3 separate regions of the Homo sapiens genome follow, and all the other regions are linked to region 2. Evidence: fine-mapped expression QTL. A gene starts in region 2. Each other region holds a variant in brackets. All regions are shown on one strand. Distances are from middle to middle.

Region 1 (5,294 bases), 32 kb before region 2:
ACTCAGGTTTCTTCCTACTTCTTAAAATTACTGACCAAGTTGTCACAAACGTCCTTGTGCCTGCTTCCTGGAAGGCTGACTCAAGCATGTTTGAGTAGATTCCGAGAAGCATAACTGCTGAGTCACAGGTGGTATGCAGATTTATGAAACTGATAGTGCCTAGTGCCCGCCACAGTCTGTTTACCTTCACCCATCCCTGTGAATGAACCATGTCTAGGTTCAAGCATGGATGCCCTTGGTATGTGAGTGCAAGCCAAATGTGAACTGCTGCCTCTTCCAGCCCTGGCAGGGGGGCCCAGTGAGCACAGCTTTGGGACAGGTTCACTTTATGTAGAAAGAGAAGCTGCCTGAGGTCAGAAACGACATGGATTGGAGGGCAGGGGTGAATGGTTCACTTGTGAATGAGAGAGGGCCAGGCATGGTGGCTCACACCTTAATTCCAGCACTTCAGGCTGAAGCTGGAGTATCACTTGAGCCCAGGAGTTTGAGACGAGCCTGGGAAACAAAGTGAGACCCTGTCTCTATAAAAACAATTAACAAATTAGCCTGGCGCGGTGGCATGTGTCTGTGGTCCCAGCCACACCAGAGGCTGAGGCAAGAGGATTGCTTGAGCCCAGGAGTTGAAGACCAGCCTGGGGAACACAGTGAGAAGAAAGGGGTGGAGGGAGGAAGAAAGGGAGAACGGGAAGAAAAAAATGAAAGGAAGGAAGAAAGGAAAGAAAAACGGAAGGAAGAAAGAAAAGGAAGGGAGCAAGGGAGGAAAGGAAGGAAGGAAGGAAAGAAAGGAAGGAAGGAAGGAAAGGAAGGGAAGGAAGGAAGGAAAGGAAGGAAGGAAAATGGGAGGAGGCAAGGGACCTGGAAGAGTGACGCGGATGAAGGACACTCCAATGTCCACTCCCGTGTCCAGTGGGGAGCCCCGCAGCCAGCAGCCCTGGTTACAGAGGCCCTCCCCTTGCTGCGCTGACATTGGCCGGGACTGCCCGGGCAGAACGGGCAGAACGAGGCTCAGTAGGGCAGGCCACATTCTTCTTGAAGAAAGTGCAGGGAGAACACACCTCTGAGGCTGCCACAGGCCTCCAGGGATTTACCCCCAGACTCAATCAAAGCATTCATAAAAATACAAACATGCAGGCAGTCCTCACCTGCTCAGGCCGCCGTCACAGATCACCCCAGGCTGCGGGGCCTAGCACAGAGATTCATCTTCTCCCAGTTTTGGAGGCTGGGGTCCTCATGAGGCCTTTCTTCCTGGTGGGCGCATGGCCTGGTTTTGCCGTGTCCTCTCATGGAGTTCCCTGGGGTGTGAGGGTGCAGAGAACGAGCTCTCTGGCGTCTCTTCTCACGAGGACACTAAAGCTATCGGTTCAGGGCCCACCTTTATGACCTTCATTAAACCTAGTTACCCCCTAAAAGCCCTGTTTCCAAACGCAGTCACATAGAGGGCAAGGGCTTCAACTGACACATCTAAAGGAGGCACGATCCCGTCTCTAACCCACGCACACGTTGAACAGAGGGCTCGGTAAGTCAATTATGATGCATATATAGACCAAAATACCACGCAGACATTAAAAATCTTGTATTCTAATGCTATTTATTATCACAATAAATAATTCACTGCAAATGACTGCATGAAAAATGTGGGTTCCAGAGCACCATGTATAAAATGATCCCATTTATGTAGAACTGTAAACATACATCCACACACTGACGGACAGGTACATATGCATGTTTGGGGAGGGGTCTGGAATGATCACCCAAGTGGACAGGGTGAGGGGTGGTTTCCTGTATTTTTTACAATAAGCATTTATGACTTTTACAAAATCACCAAAGCTATCACTTTTTCCATTTAGAAAACACAAAATTATTTTTAAATAGAGACTTGACGTCATTTGACACACCTTGGTTTTCTCTCGGAGAGCACAGATGCCGCAGACAAGAGGAGCGGACCCGCCTCCCAGACTCCTGCCTGCCCCGTCCCTCCCCCGCAGGTGGCACTGGTGAGCCGGGAAGGTGCTGCCAGCCCCAGGATGCCTCGCACAGCCCGGGCTGGAAACCCCTGCCCCTGCTTCCTCGCACAGTCTGTCATTCTAGAAGGCTCTCTCCAAACCACTCTTCCAAAGAGGGTCATGCCAGGGAACAGCAGCGAGGTCATTTTCCAGTCATCCCACAGGAAGCCAGTGAGCCCCACTCCCACTGCCGTGGACCTCCAGGCCTGGCTTCCTTCTCTTCCCTGGGTTACCTGCTCAGGGGTTTCTCAGCCAGGCCAGCATGTCTATCAGGCGGCATCCAGCATCCAATCACAGTGACAAGAACCTTCCGGAACACCCTGCAAACTGTGGATGCCCACGGGTGGCCCCATTATGCCTTGAGCAGGGCAACCTTTTGGTCCAGAATGGAGTCTTCTCTGATGTTGTAGGGCTGGGTCCCTGGCTCCTGCCTCAGGTGCTTCTCTGCAGAAAATACAATAAATGTTTCAAGCACTAAAAGCTCAGAAGTGAGGATGGGTCAGTTCACAGGAAGGGATTAAGGAGGGCCTTCCAG[A/G]GTCCTGGAAGGTGTGCAGGAAGGAGCTGTGGGCCACCCAGGCCAGTGTCACTAACTCCATGAGGGTCTCACCTGAGTCTCTGTAAGCGTATTTTTCAGGTGACTAACGGCCCTTTCTTACTGCTCCAGGGTACCCTCCCATCCCACGGCCAGGCCACATTCTGCTTATCCACCTCCAGTGCACTGCATCTGAGCTGATTCTACAACAACATGGGTGAATCTCCCTGACGTCACATTGAGCCAAGGAAGTCAGTACAACATCCGCCACCCCTCACTCTCACGGAGCTGACCCAGCTTCAGCTGTGACCTCAGTGGAAGAGGAAGAGGCCTAGCACTGGGGCCTGGGACCCTCTGGCCACTGCTGTGTGGCCTGGGGTGGATGCTCTGCATCTCTGGCCCATCCTCTTGTTGACACCTGCTGCGGCTCAGACCTCCTGCGATTGCTGTCTCAAGGGTCAGCGCCCACCCTGCTCCTGTCCCTCCCGTACCTTCTGTCCCGGGGCTTCTGGATCTCCTGACCCGGCCCTGCTCTGTCCTGATCCCCCGGGATGTGGACTTTCGGCTGGAAGGACATCCTTCCAACCTTCTGCATGAAAAATGTGGGTTCCAGAGCACCAGGTATGAAATGGTCCCATTTACGTAAAACCGCAAACATATATCCACATCCTGACAGGCAGGTACATATGCGTGTTTAGGGGAGGGGTATGGAGTGATCACCAAAGTGGACTGGGGTGGAGGTGGTTTCCTGTTTTTTTTGTTTTTTTTTTTTTTGAGACAGAGTCTCGCTCTCTCACCCAGGCTGGAGTGCAGTGGCACAATCTCGGCTCAGTACAACCTCTGCCTCCTGGGTTCAAGCGATTCTCCTGCTTCAGCCTCCCGAATAGCTGGGACTAGAGGTGCATGCCACCACACCCAGCTAATTTTTGTATTTTTAGTACTGATGAGGTTTTACCATGTTGGCCAGGCTGGTCTCGAACTCCTGACCTCAGGTGATCCACCTGCCTCGGCCTCCCAAAGTGCTGGGATTACAGGCATGAGCCACTGTGCCCAGCTGGTTTCCCATATTTTTTACAATAAGCATTTATGATTTTTACAAAATCACCAAAGCCACAGGATGTCTGACTGTGCCCACCTGCTTCTTCCAGGGTAGAGAAGTACTGGAACCCCTTCAGGTCAGCGGACAGCAGGACACGGAGAACGGGGACCTGAGAGACAGACAGACTTTAGCCAGGGCAGGGATGTTCCTCTGTAGCACACGGGTCGGCAGCCTGGTAGACCTGCCATCTCAGAGTCTCCCGGAGAGGTATGGCTTCACCTCCATACCAGTGAATGGTGAGAAGAAACGCAGCCCCAGGGGAATGCTGTCAGAGGAAGATTTTTTTTTTTTTAATTTTTTGTTTTTTGAGACAGGGTCTTGCTCATTGCTCAGGCTGGAGTGCAGTGGCACGATCATGGCTCACTGCAGCCTCAACCTCCCAGACTCAAGTGATCCTCCCACCTCAGCCTCCTGAGTAGCTACAGGTGCACGCCACCACGTCCAGCTATTTTTTCCTATTTTTTTGATGGGGTTTCGTCATGTTGCCCAGGCTGGTCTCAAACTCCTGGCCTCAAATGATCCTCCTACCTCGGCCTCCCAAAGTGCTGGGATTACAGGTGTGAGCCACAGCGCCTGGCCCAGAGGACTTTTTGTTTGTTTGTTTGTTTTTGAGATGGAGTTTCACTCTTGTTACCCAGGCTGGAGTGCAATGGCGCGATCTCGGCTCACTGCAACCTCTGCCTCCCGGGTTCAAGCGATTCTCCTGCCTCAGCCCCCTGAGCAGCTGGGATTACAGGCGTGCGCCACCATGCCCGTCTAATTTTTGTATTTTTAGTAGAGACGGAGTTTCACTATGTTGGCCAGGCTGGTCTCAAACCCTTGACCTCCCGCCTCGGCCTCTCAAAGTGCTGGGATTACAGGTGTGAGCCACCATGTCTGGGTCAGAGGAGTATTTTTTTAAGTGAATCATCTCCAAAGACCATGAAGACATGTGCTCTGCAAATATGACACAGGACGTAACACTTATGAGCGAAGTTCTGAAGGCACATGCCCAAATCTGAAGCCGGGCCCACCATCCTGTGTGACCGTGGGCAGATTACCTGGCTTCTCTGGGCCTCAGTGACCTCTTCTGGACATGGGGATGAAGATAACACTAGCCTCGTGGGCCAGGTTGGGAATGAAGGAAACTCTGACAAGGGTCGGCTGTGGTCCACACCTGGGGTATACGGGTCACTTGGCCTCCTGTTCCATGGCTAGTTCATGAATGTCTCCTCTGGGCGCCTGGGGACACGCCCTAGTCCCCCACGTTCTGCCATCTAGGACTTGGCAGAGAGCGCACATTTAACCACAGCAACAGAGACCCCTGCCTCTCTGCAAACACTGGCCACACCCCTGGGATGTTGACCCTGCAGTGCTCAGAAGGCTCCTAGGTGAGGCCTAAGACGCAGGGCCTGGGACCCAGCCCTTACACTTTACCTGTGGCTCTGAACAGGACGGCCTCCATAGAAACCCGTCTTCAGCCTCTGGAAGCCCTGACAATACGTTTTTCATGAAATTCTATGAGCACCTGTTTTTTTTCGTTTGTTTGTTTTTGAGATGGAGTCCCACTCTGTCGCCCAGGCTGGAGTACAGTAGTGGGATCTCGGCTTACTGCAACCTCCACCTCCCAGGTTCAAGCGATTCTCCCAGCCTCCCATGTAGCTGGAATTACAGGCGCTCG
Region 2 (5,244 bases):
CAGGAGGCCGAGGCCCATCCACCAGCTCCCTAGTGTGCGTGTCCAAGCTCGGGATGTGTGGGTGTCAGCTGTGTCCAGGCCCAGGTTAAAGGTGCACCGCCCTGCCCTGTGGGTGGACCTGCAGTGATCAGGAGGCCACTTTTTTAGCAGCACTCAACTGGGGCCTCAGGGTGCAGACAGCCAGGCAGAGGGGTCGGTGCAGGCCCGTGTGCTGTGTCCAAGTCTGAGGAAGCATTCTTTTTTTTTTTTTTTGAGATGGAGTCTCGCTCTGTCGCCCAGGCTGGAGGGCAGTGGCACAGTCTCGGCTCACTGCAAGCTCCGCCTCCCGGGTTCACGCCATTCTCCTGCCTCAGCCTCCCAGGTAGCTGGGACTACAGGCACCCGCCACCACACCTGGCTAATTTTTTGTATTTTTAGTAGAGACGGGGTTTCACCCTGTTAGCCAGGATGGTCTCCATCTCCTGACCTTGCGATCCGCCTGCCTCGGCCTCCCAAAGTGCTGGGATTACAGGCTTGAGCCACCGCACCCAGCCTAATTTTTGTATTTTTAGTGGAGACGGGGTTTCACCATTTTGGTCGGGCTGGTCTTGAACTCCTGAGGCCTCCATGAGTCATCTCGCTGGCCCCTCCATAACCAGCTCAGTGTCTGTGTGTGCCAAACAGGCATAGGAGCCTGGGTCGGCCCAGAGACAATCTGCGTCACACACTGTAAACCAAAGGTTCCTTGGGGCCCAGGGGCTGGAAACCTGGAATCGCTGATGGTGTCTGGGATTGATACTGTGTATTCTGCACTGTTTCTGAGATATGGCTGGCAGCAGGGTCAGACGCCTCACCTGGGGCGGGAGTCCAGCCACTTCAGCATAGGCCAGCGCCTGGGGAATGGCAGTGAGGCCAACTGAGAGGCCGGCGACGAAATCCATCTTCAGCCACTGCAGGGAGTAGCTGGGCAGCCACGCCAGGATGGGCAGCCTCCTCTGCAGGGCCGCAGGGGAGCAGCAGCAGGCGCTCGGGGCCATCCCGGGGCCAGAGGACCTGGCCTGACCCAGCGCCGTCACCGAAGAAGGCATCTCTACGGTGGGGCTGGGGGGTGCAGGTGACACAGACCAGCAGTCAGAGCGTGGCCTTTGAAGAACCCGGCAACACTGGTCAGGGTCGGCGGGTGTCAGGAGAGGTCACTATGGGTCTCCCCTCCCCAGGGGGGCGAACGGCTCTAAGAGGAAGCCAACAATGTGTGCAAGATGGGGACTGGGCCAAGACTGGAAGGCCCACCCCGTCCCTCATCACCCTCTCTCCCTGAATCCCCCCCGTGCAAATCCTGGGTGCCTTCTGTCCCTCCATCCTCAACTCTCCCAGATAAGAAACTGATAAGCGATTCCTCATTGAGAAGTCTGAAGACTAATTAGGCTCAACACTTCTGGCCCCTGGAGAACCGACTTCCTTTGCCTTTTTTTCCGTCTCCCCAGGGAATTTAACGGGGAGCAGCGCAGAGAGAAGCTGGGCCCGCGGGCGCACCGTAGGCTGGCGGGGGGTGCGGGTGGCAGCCAGGAGATCCAGCGGGGCTCCGAGGTTTTCCAACTGCGCACCAAGGCGGGCTCCACCCGCTACGGTGGACTGCGGCGCTCGAGGGAGAGTGGGGGGGTCCTCCGCTCCTGAGGCCACGCCTCGCTCAGCCCCCACCTGTGGCTTTCACAGCCCTGGAGTTCTAGTTGCTTCTGGGAGGACATCAGAGGCGCCCGGTTAATTCAGGTGCGCAGCATCTTCCAGGGCCCCGGCGCCCGCGCGCAGAGCCGCCACCCTCACCCCCAGCCCCCCACGCCCCCGGCCGCTCCGCTCCGGGCAAAATCCACTCCCCGGCCCCCGGCCCCGCCCACAAGGCCGCTGGCTCCGGATCCTGGGGTCTCCGGAGGAGACCCTGCGCCACCTGACCGTCCGCGGTCCCTTGGCCCCGAGCAAGGCCGAGGGCCGCGGGGACCCGGGTAGGGACGCGGCGGGGGAGTGGTCCCCACGGGAGGCCCCCGCACTTCAGGACTCCGCGCTGGCCCCCGCGTCGGCTGCCCCCGGCGACCCCGGCCACTGTCCGCTCCCCCTGCCCCTGGTCCCCGCTCGCCGCCCTCGCGGGCCACGGACTCACCCACTCGGCGATGCAGCTTGGGGTCTCCTGGCGTCGCCGCAGCTGGGTCCGCAGGAATCGCCGGGGACAGGCCGGGGCGGGGTCTGGCGCGCACGTGACCGGGGTCGGGGCAGGGGGCGGGGCCGAGCGGGAGACCAGAGAGCCGGAGCCGGATCCCGATCCCGAGTCCGAGCCGCCGCCGCCATGAGCTGCCCCGTGCCCGCCTGCTGCGCGCTGCTGCTAGTCCTGGGGCTCTGCCGGGCGCGTCCCCGGAACGCACTGCTGCTCCTCGGTGAGTGCCGGCGCCGCCCCCCCACGCCCACCTGCGGTGGCCCGGGGAAGTGGCCACTGGCCTCCTCCCCACCCGTGGTCAATGCTGACCCTAGTGTGCCCTGCCCTTGTATCCCCCGCTGCCATTCCCTCTCGTCCTCCTCTCTGTGCCGCCCCCAGACTCTTCACGGGTGTCTCCCCAGAGAGGGCAGCAAAGGCTGGAGGAGTGAGCCCCAGCATCCAGCACCCCTACACTTACCTCGTGCCGCCTGTCCCACCCTCCTCTGACCCTGCCCAGCCAGGGCTCAGGGGTCCACGGATCTCAAATCCCTCTTGGGAGGGGATCCCAGAGGAGGGGCTGGTGCTCCGGTCCCCAGAGACTGCAGACAGGGTGCCCTCCTGGCTCTCATTTCCGACCCCAGAGCCTGTGTCTCAGCTGTCTTTTCCCTTATCCCAAGGGCACAGCCCTCCACCACCCACCCACCACCGTCTCCCCCAACCCCAGTCCCTCTCAGAAACCCCAGGTTCCTCCAGAGCAAGCACCGTGCTGCTCACAAGACTTCCGGTTTAGGTAATCAAGGCTCTGGCTCATGACAAGTGACAAGGCCAAACCCAAGGCCTGCGATTCTTTCCCCTTCTGAGGTCTGGCGCCCTGCCAGTTGCCCTCTTTCTGATTAATTTTGTGGTCTCTGGGCGGGGGTTCGGCTCACTGTAACATAAACAGCTCTCCTGCCAACTCCTCGCCTCCCAGAAACACAGCAGAGAATCTGCATGGACCCTCACCTGCGGATCAGAATTCCTACAGGAGGCTGTCAGAGTCCAGGCTATGCGGCCCCTGGGCTAGGGCCTTTCTTAGCACGGACTGCCATGGATCGGCTTAAACAGAAATGTATTTCTCACAGTTCTGTGGGCTGAAAATCCAAGGTCAGGGTGCCAGCTTGGTTGGGTTCCAGTGAGGGTCCACTTTCGGCTTACAGGTGGTCACCCTCTCACTGTTTCCTCACATGACAAGCGGATGGGGGTGGTCTCACTTCCTTTTCCTTTCTTTTTCCTTTCTTTCCTTTTTTTTTTTTTTTTTTTTTTTTTGTGAGACAGGGTCTCACTCTGTCACCCAGGCTGGAGCACAGTAGCACAATCACAGCTCACTGCAGCCTCAATCTCCCAGGCTCAAGCGATCCTCCTGCCTCAGCCTCCCAAGTAGCTGGGACCTCAAGTGCACATCACCATGCCTGGCTAATTTTTGTATTTTTTGTAGAGACAAGGTCTCACTGTGTTGCCCAGACTGGTCTCGAACTCCTGGGCTCAAGCAATCTTCCTGCCTTGGCCTCCCGGGTGCTGGGCTTACGGGCATGAAACACTGCACCCGGCCCTCTCTTTCTTTTCCTTTAAGTCCACAGTCCTGTCAGATCAGGATCTCATCCTTATGATTCATTTACCCTTAATTAAGGACCCTGTCTCCAGATACAGTGATGTTGACGTTAGGGCTTCAGCATATGAATTCTGGGAGGACACAGTTCAGACCATAGCAGGCCCACAGCCAAGTGCCGAGACACTCTGGGTTTGGAGAAGGGCAGCTTTCTTCCTGGCCTGCGGGTACGGAGCACAGCCCATCCCGCTCTCCCTCCAGGTTTACGTGGCTGCCATGTGCTCACACCTGTGGGTACTGTGGGGTGGAGGATGGAAGCCCAACTGGAAGGTGCCCAGCCTCCTCTGTCCATCCATGGACCACATTGCCTCTGAGGGAGCTGGGGAAAGTGTTGGTCTGGGGGTTCCCACCAGCCTCTCCTGTGGTGCCCCCAGTGTCCTCTACTCCAGAGCAGGGGGAAGAAGCTTGGTGTGGTTGTAGGAGTTCAGCGGCCTGTCCCTGTTTCCTGCTGCCCAGTGTGTGGCCCTGGGCACTGCACCTCACCTTTCTGGGCCTCAGCTGCTTTGTGTAGGATGAAAGGGTTGAAATAGACAACCTGCAAGGTCACTAGGCCTTTGAGATGGCATCAGTGAGAAGCAGCGGTGGGACGCACACACATAGAGCTTTAGACGCGCCCTGGGCGAGGCTCTCCTGCCCTCTGCCCCATGCGGTTTCCGCTGAGCCCAGAATTGCCCAGCAGTTCTGTGGCCATGCGCTCAGCCGCTGTCTGCCTAAATGCCTAGCCGGCTAACACGCCCACCCAGGTAGCATGCCTGCTGGGGTATCATCAAGCTTGTTGGGTCATCATGCCTGCATGAGTATCTTGCCCACTTGGGTACCATGCCTGCCTGCTAACATGCCTATGCAGGTACCAGGCTTGCCTGGGTACCATGCCCATCTGCTTATACCCACCAGCTATCAGTCCAGCCTGTGTACCATGCCCACCTGCCAACATACCCACCGGGTATCATGCCTGCTTAGGGTATCATCAAGCTTATTGTGGTATGATGCCTGCTTATCATGCCCACTTGGATACCATGCCTGCCTGCTAACATACCAACCACGCATCATCCCTGCTGGATACCAGTCTACCTGCTAACATACCCACTGGTATCAGGCCTGCCTGGGTACCATGCCTACCTGCTTATACCCACCATCTATCAGTCCAGCCTCCATACCATGCTCACCTGCCAACATACCCACCATCTATCAATCAGTCCAGCCTCCATACCATGCTCACCTGCCAACATACCCACTGGGTATCAGGCCTGCCTGGGCACCCTGCCTGCTTGCTGATATACCCACCAGGTATTGTGCCTACTAGGTACCATGCCTTCTTGCTAACATACCCAGTGGGTATGGGGTCTTCTGGATACATGCCTGCCTGCTAACATACCCACCAAGTATGAGACCTGCTAACATGCCCTCTGATACCATGCTTGCCTGATGTACCCACTCG
Region 3 (5,294 bases), 92 kb before region 2:
TCCATTACCTCCACCATCACCTTCACCACCACCATCACCTCCAGTACCTCCACCATCACCTTCACCACCACCATCACCTCCACCATCACCTACACGACCACCATCACCTCCAGTACCTCCACCAACACCTTCACCACCACCATCACCTCCAGTACCTCCACCATCACCTCCACCACCACCATCACCTCCATTACCTCCACCACCACCACCACCACCACCATCACCTCCATTACCTCCACCATCACCTTCACCACCACCATCACCTCCATTACCTCCACCACCACCACCATCACCTCCAGTACCTCCACCATCACCATCACCACCATCACCTCCATTACCTCCACCATCACCTCCAGTACCTCCACCACCACCACCACCACCACCTCCATTACCTCCACCATCACCTCCACGACCGCCATCACCTCCAGTACCTCCACCACCACCACCACCACCACCATCACCTCCATTACCTCCACCACCACCACCACCACCACCATCACCTCCATTACCTCCACCATCACCTTCACCACCACCATCACCTCCATTACCTCCACCACCACCACCATCACCTCCAGTACCTCCACCATCACCATCACCACCATCACCTCCATTACCTCCACCATCACCTCCAGTACCTCCACCACCACCACCACCACCACCTCCATTACCTCCACCATCACCTCCACGACCGCCATCACCTCCAGTACCTCCACCACCACCACCACCACCATCACCTCCATTACCTCCACCATCACGTCCACCACCATCACCTCCAGTACCTCCACCATCACCTTTACCACCATCACCTCCAGTACCTCCACCATCACCTTCACCACCACCATCACCTCCATTACCTCCACCATCACCTTCACCACCACCATCACCTCCACCATCACCTACACCACCACCATCACCTCCAGTACCTCCACCATCACCTTCACCACCACCATCACCTCCAGTACCTCCACCATCACCTCCACCACCACCATCACCTCCATTACCTCCACCACCTCCACCATCACCACCACCACCACCATCACCTCCATTACCTCCACCATCACCTTCACCACCACCATCACCTCCAGTACCTCCACCATCACCTCCACCACCACCATCACCTCCATTACCTCCACCACCTCCACCATCACCACCACCACCACCATCACCTCCAGTACCTCCACCATCACCTTCACCACCACCATCACCTCCAGTACCTCCACCATCACCTCCACCACCACCATCACCTCCATTACCTCCACCATCACCTTCACCACCACCATCACCTCCAGTACCTCCACCACCTCCACCACCAGCATCACCATTGTCACCTCCACCACCACCACCTCCATCACCACCATCCCCTTCACCACCACCATCACCTCCATTACCTCCACCATCACCTCCACAACCATCACCATCACCACCATCACCTCCACCACAATCACCATCACCTCCACCACCACCATCACCTCCACCACCTCCATGACCACCATCACCACCATCACCTCCATTACGTCCACCATCACCATCACCTTCACCACCATCACCTCTACCACCACCACCACCAACCATCACCATCACCTCCACCACCATCACCTCTACCACCACCACCACCAACCATCACCATCACCTCCACACCTCCATCACCACAGGGACTGTGCCCGGCCAGGGGACACGAGGCAGTGCAGCAGCACTTTGCACCCGGCATCTGTCTGCCTCAGAGCCACCCTGCCAGGTAGACAGGAGCAACTCCATTTTGTAGATGAAGAACTGAGGCTCAGGTGAAGGCCAACAACTGCCCCTGGCCAGCAGCCTGTACCCCATGATTTGAGGCCATGAGGAATCACGATCAGTCACATCCCTACCCAGAAGCCTTCGGCCAAATGCCTACCTCAATTTCCTTGACGTATGTGAATGAGGCACCTGAAGATGTGAGCATGTTCTTTGTAAAAACTTCTCGGAGCCACCTTTTCGTAGCAGCAAGGGTCCCTTGGAAGACTGTTTGGACTGAATTATTTCCAGTTTCATCTCTCTGTCCTGCAGAATCCTGTTGTCACACAAGAGGGAGGGTCAGTCATCCTCGGCTGTGGACTCAGGTTCCCGGCGAGATGCTGCACCCCCTCCTCTCCTCCCTGCTGGCACAGGCTGCTCAAGGAGTGGCTACGATGGAGGGACCACAGGCCTTGGCAGAAGCCCACATTCCCAAAGCACTTCCATTCCCCAGGGTTTTCTGGGTTCACCCTGAACGTGGGAGATACGGGAGAAAAGAGGGAGGGAGGGAACGGCATCTGTGTGCTCCCCCGAAAGCCCAGGCAGCCTCTGTCCTGCCAATGAGCAGGTCCCCAGGCTGTGCCCAGGAGACTGAGGGGGAAAAGCACGCCCCAGAGAGGGGCCCTGCAGACTCCCGGGCCTGTTCCTTAGACACAGGAGACAGCCAGGCTCCTGACCCGGAGGTAAACCTGGGTCCCCTTCCCACTGTGCTCCCATCATGCCCTCCCCCTGCCTCCATGCCAGACCACAGCCAGGCTCCTGACCCGGAGGTAAACCTGGGTCCCCTTCCCACTGTGCTCCCATCATGCCCTCCCCCTGCCTCCATGCCAGACCACAGCCAGGCTCCTGACCCGGAGGTAAACCTGGGTCCCCTTCCCACTGTGCTCCCATCATGCTCTCCCCCCGCCTCC[G/A]TGCCGGACCCACCAGACCAGAGGGAAAACCCCTCTTCCCCTGGGCTCAAAGCCTCCTGTAATGCCTCCCTTCTCTCCCCTGCCTTCCTCTTCCTCCCTCTCCTTCCTCCTCCCTCTGTCCTCCCCAGAAGCACATTTCCCAGGAAGCATACAGGTCAGGGGTCAGGGCCACCTCCTCCTGGGAGGAGCCCCACAGTCCTGGATTAATGTGTGGTCTTTTTCTTTTCTTTTTCTTTTTTTTCTTTTTTTTGAGACAGAGTCTCACTCTGTAACCCAGGCTGGAGTACAGTGGCGCGATCTTGGCTCACTGCAACCTCCACCTCCTGGGTTCAAGTGATCCTCCTGCTTCAGCCTCCCAAGTAGCTGGGATTACAAGTGCATGCCACCATACCTGGCTAATTTTTGTATTTTTTAGTAGAGACAGGGTTTCACCATGTTGGCCAGGCTGGTCTCGAACTCCTAACCTCTGGTTATCTGCCTGCTTTGGCCTTCCAAAGTGCTGGGATTACAGGTGTGAGCTACTACACCCAGCCAAGTGTGTGATCTTTTTTTTTAAGCACAGCCCCGCACATCGTGCAAGTGTCAGGAGCCACAGAACCTGGATACGCTCAGGTGCTCACTGGAAGCACCGAGAGGCCCACGCCTCGAGGCAGCTGGGCAAGAGGACAAGGCTGCTGCTGGGCGGGGCTGCCCGAGAGTGGGAGAGAGGAAAAGCCCACAGCAGGCAGGGGAACACAGCGTCACTATACCTGGGAAGGGCCAGGGCGGGAAGATACAGGCAGGAGCTTTCAAAGCATGTAAGAGGGACCAGGATGCAGGTGCTGCTGTGAAAGAGAGCCCGCAGAGGGGGCTGGGCACAGGAGTGACTAGAGCACAGCACGCAGGGGGCGGGGGCCGACAGAAAACGAAACAGGCACTGCTGAAGGTCCCCCCAATGGCACAGCTCCTTCTAGAACAATCCAGCAGCACAGGGCTGGACAGCGATGGCCAATAACAACAAACTGAATGACCGCTCAGAGGCTGCACAGACCTCCGGAGCCTGACACGGGCACCTTGTTCTCCAAGTGTCCGTCAACCCTGGAGCCTTCACAGCAGCAGACACCTAAAAGTTTCTTCAACATGCGTCACGTATTTTTGCTTTGTTTAATTTTAGTATTGCAAAGGTTTTTTGTTTGTTTGTTTGCTTTTATGGCACAGGTAGAGAGTATTTTGTCCATAATATGGATTAAACTTATCTGAGATCCCAGCCAACATTTAAGATAGTTATTTCTGTAGAAAATAAATCCTAAGTAACTGACAAATTCCTTAAACACAGTTTATGTGGAAGTTGGCAGCTGCCTGTGGCGGTTTAAATAGCAGCCACTCCAGAGAACGTGATCATCTCACCAATGACATTTATTCTTAAACTGTGTCTGTGGTACTTTAACACAAGAAAACTGAAAGGAAGAAAGTTAAAACATACACTTAATTGTTTTCTATCACTAACGTCACAGTTCTAACTTGAAGTAAGATTAAAAAAAATGATCAGCCGGGTGCAGTAGCTCATGCCTGTAATCCTAGCACTTTGGGAGGCTGAGGCAGGCGAATCACCTGAGGTCAGGAGTTCAAGGCCAGCCTGACCAACATGTAGAAATCCTGTCTCGACTAAAAATACAGAATTAGCTGGGTTTAGTGGCACATGCCTGTAATCCCAGCTACTCGGGAGGCTGAGGCAGGAGAATCACTTGAACCCAGGAGGCGGAGGTTGTGGTGAGCCGAGATCACGCCATTGCACTACAGCCTGGGCAACAAGAGTGAAACTCTGTCTCAAAAAAAAAAAAAATTGTGCTGGGTGCAGTGGCTCACATCGGCAATCCCAGCACTCTGGGAGGCCAAGGCAGGTGGATCACGTGAGGTCAGGCGTTTGAGACCAGCTTGGCCAACATGGTGAAACCCTGTCTCTACTAAAAATACAAAAATTAGCTGGGTGTGGTGGTGCACACCTGTAGTCCCAGCCACTTGGGAGGCTGAGGCAGGAGAATCACTTGAACCTAGGAGGCGGAGATTGCAGTGAGCTGAGATGGCGCCACTACACTCCAGCCTGGGCAACAAGAGCAAAACTCCATCTCAAAAAAACAAACAAATGATCAGTCTAAACATTAAACCTTACATCACTTTCAAACTGAAACTCATGAACTCAAGTGGGTGAAAACTGCACAGAGACGGGAAAGAAGGAATTGCCGATCTCTGCACCACACAGACAGAGCTCAGAGACATGGGGGTGAGTGGGGAAAGTCGGAGGCAGAAAGGTCAAAGCTGGAAGACAGGTAAAACTGATCCATGGGAGGCTGGGCGTGGTGGTTTAAGCCTGTAATCCCAGCACTTTGGAGGCCAAGGCAGGCGGATCATGAGGTCATGAGATCGAGACCATCCTGGCTAACACGGTGAAACCCCATCTCTACTAAAAATACAAAAATTAGCCAGGCGTGGTGGCAGGCGTCTGTAGTCCCAGCTACTTGGGAGGTTGAGACAGGAGAATGGCGTGAACCCAGGAGGCGGAGCTTGCAGTAAGCCGAGATCACGCCACTGCACTCCAGCCTGGGTGACAGAGTGAGACCCCGTCTTAAAAAACAA

What was found. PIP is the estimated chance that this variant, and not a neighbour inherited with it, causes the effect. A credible set is the group of variants that fine-mapping cannot tell apart.
Region 1: its variant is the best candidate, but not a certain one, in a credible set for the expression of SLC26A11 in whole blood (TOPMed, PIP 0.60).
Region 3: its variant is the best candidate, but not a certain one, in a credible set for the expression of SLC26A11 in whole blood (TOPMed, PIP 0.86).

The regions. Positions count from the first base shown.
Region 1 is chr17:80,249,778-80,255,071 of GRCh38, reverse strand. SLC26A11 (solute carrier family 26 member 11) reads right to left here. Exons shown (of 18, transcript NM_001166347.2): 17 at 3,671-3,743; 18 at 1,572-2,447. The coding sequence ends at 2,356. Among named protein-coding and RNA genes, the nearest start is that of RNF213, 8.4 kb to the left of the region's middle. RefSeq lists enhancers at 34-83, 114-163, 1-373, 847-1,563 and cis regulatory regions at 1-395, 1-411. The variant A/G (reference allele first, on the strand shown) is at 2,539.
Region 2 is chr17:80,217,384-80,222,627 of GRCh38, reverse strand. It overlaps SLC26A11 (solute carrier family 26 member 11), which reads right to left and starts at 2,201. Exons shown (of 18, transcript NM_001166347.2): 1 at 2,132-2,201; 2 at 1,513-1,712; 3 at 834-1,080. The coding sequence starts at 1,067. It overlaps SGSH (N-sulfoglucosamine sulfohydrolase), which reads left to right and starts at 2,295. Exons shown (of 8, transcript NM_000199.5): 1 at 2,295-2,402. The coding sequence starts at 2,315. RefSeq lists enhancers at 1-476, 3,134-3,253 and silencers at 1,974-2,043, 2,064-2,333.
Region 3 is chr17:80,309,765-80,315,058 of GRCh38, reverse strand. It overlaps RNF213 (ring finger protein 213), which reads right to left. Exons shown (of 68, transcript NM_001256071.3): 15 at 1,892-2,047. Among named protein-coding and RNA genes, the nearest start is that of RNF213, 52 kb to the right of the region's middle. The variant G/A (reference allele first, on the strand shown) is at 2,682.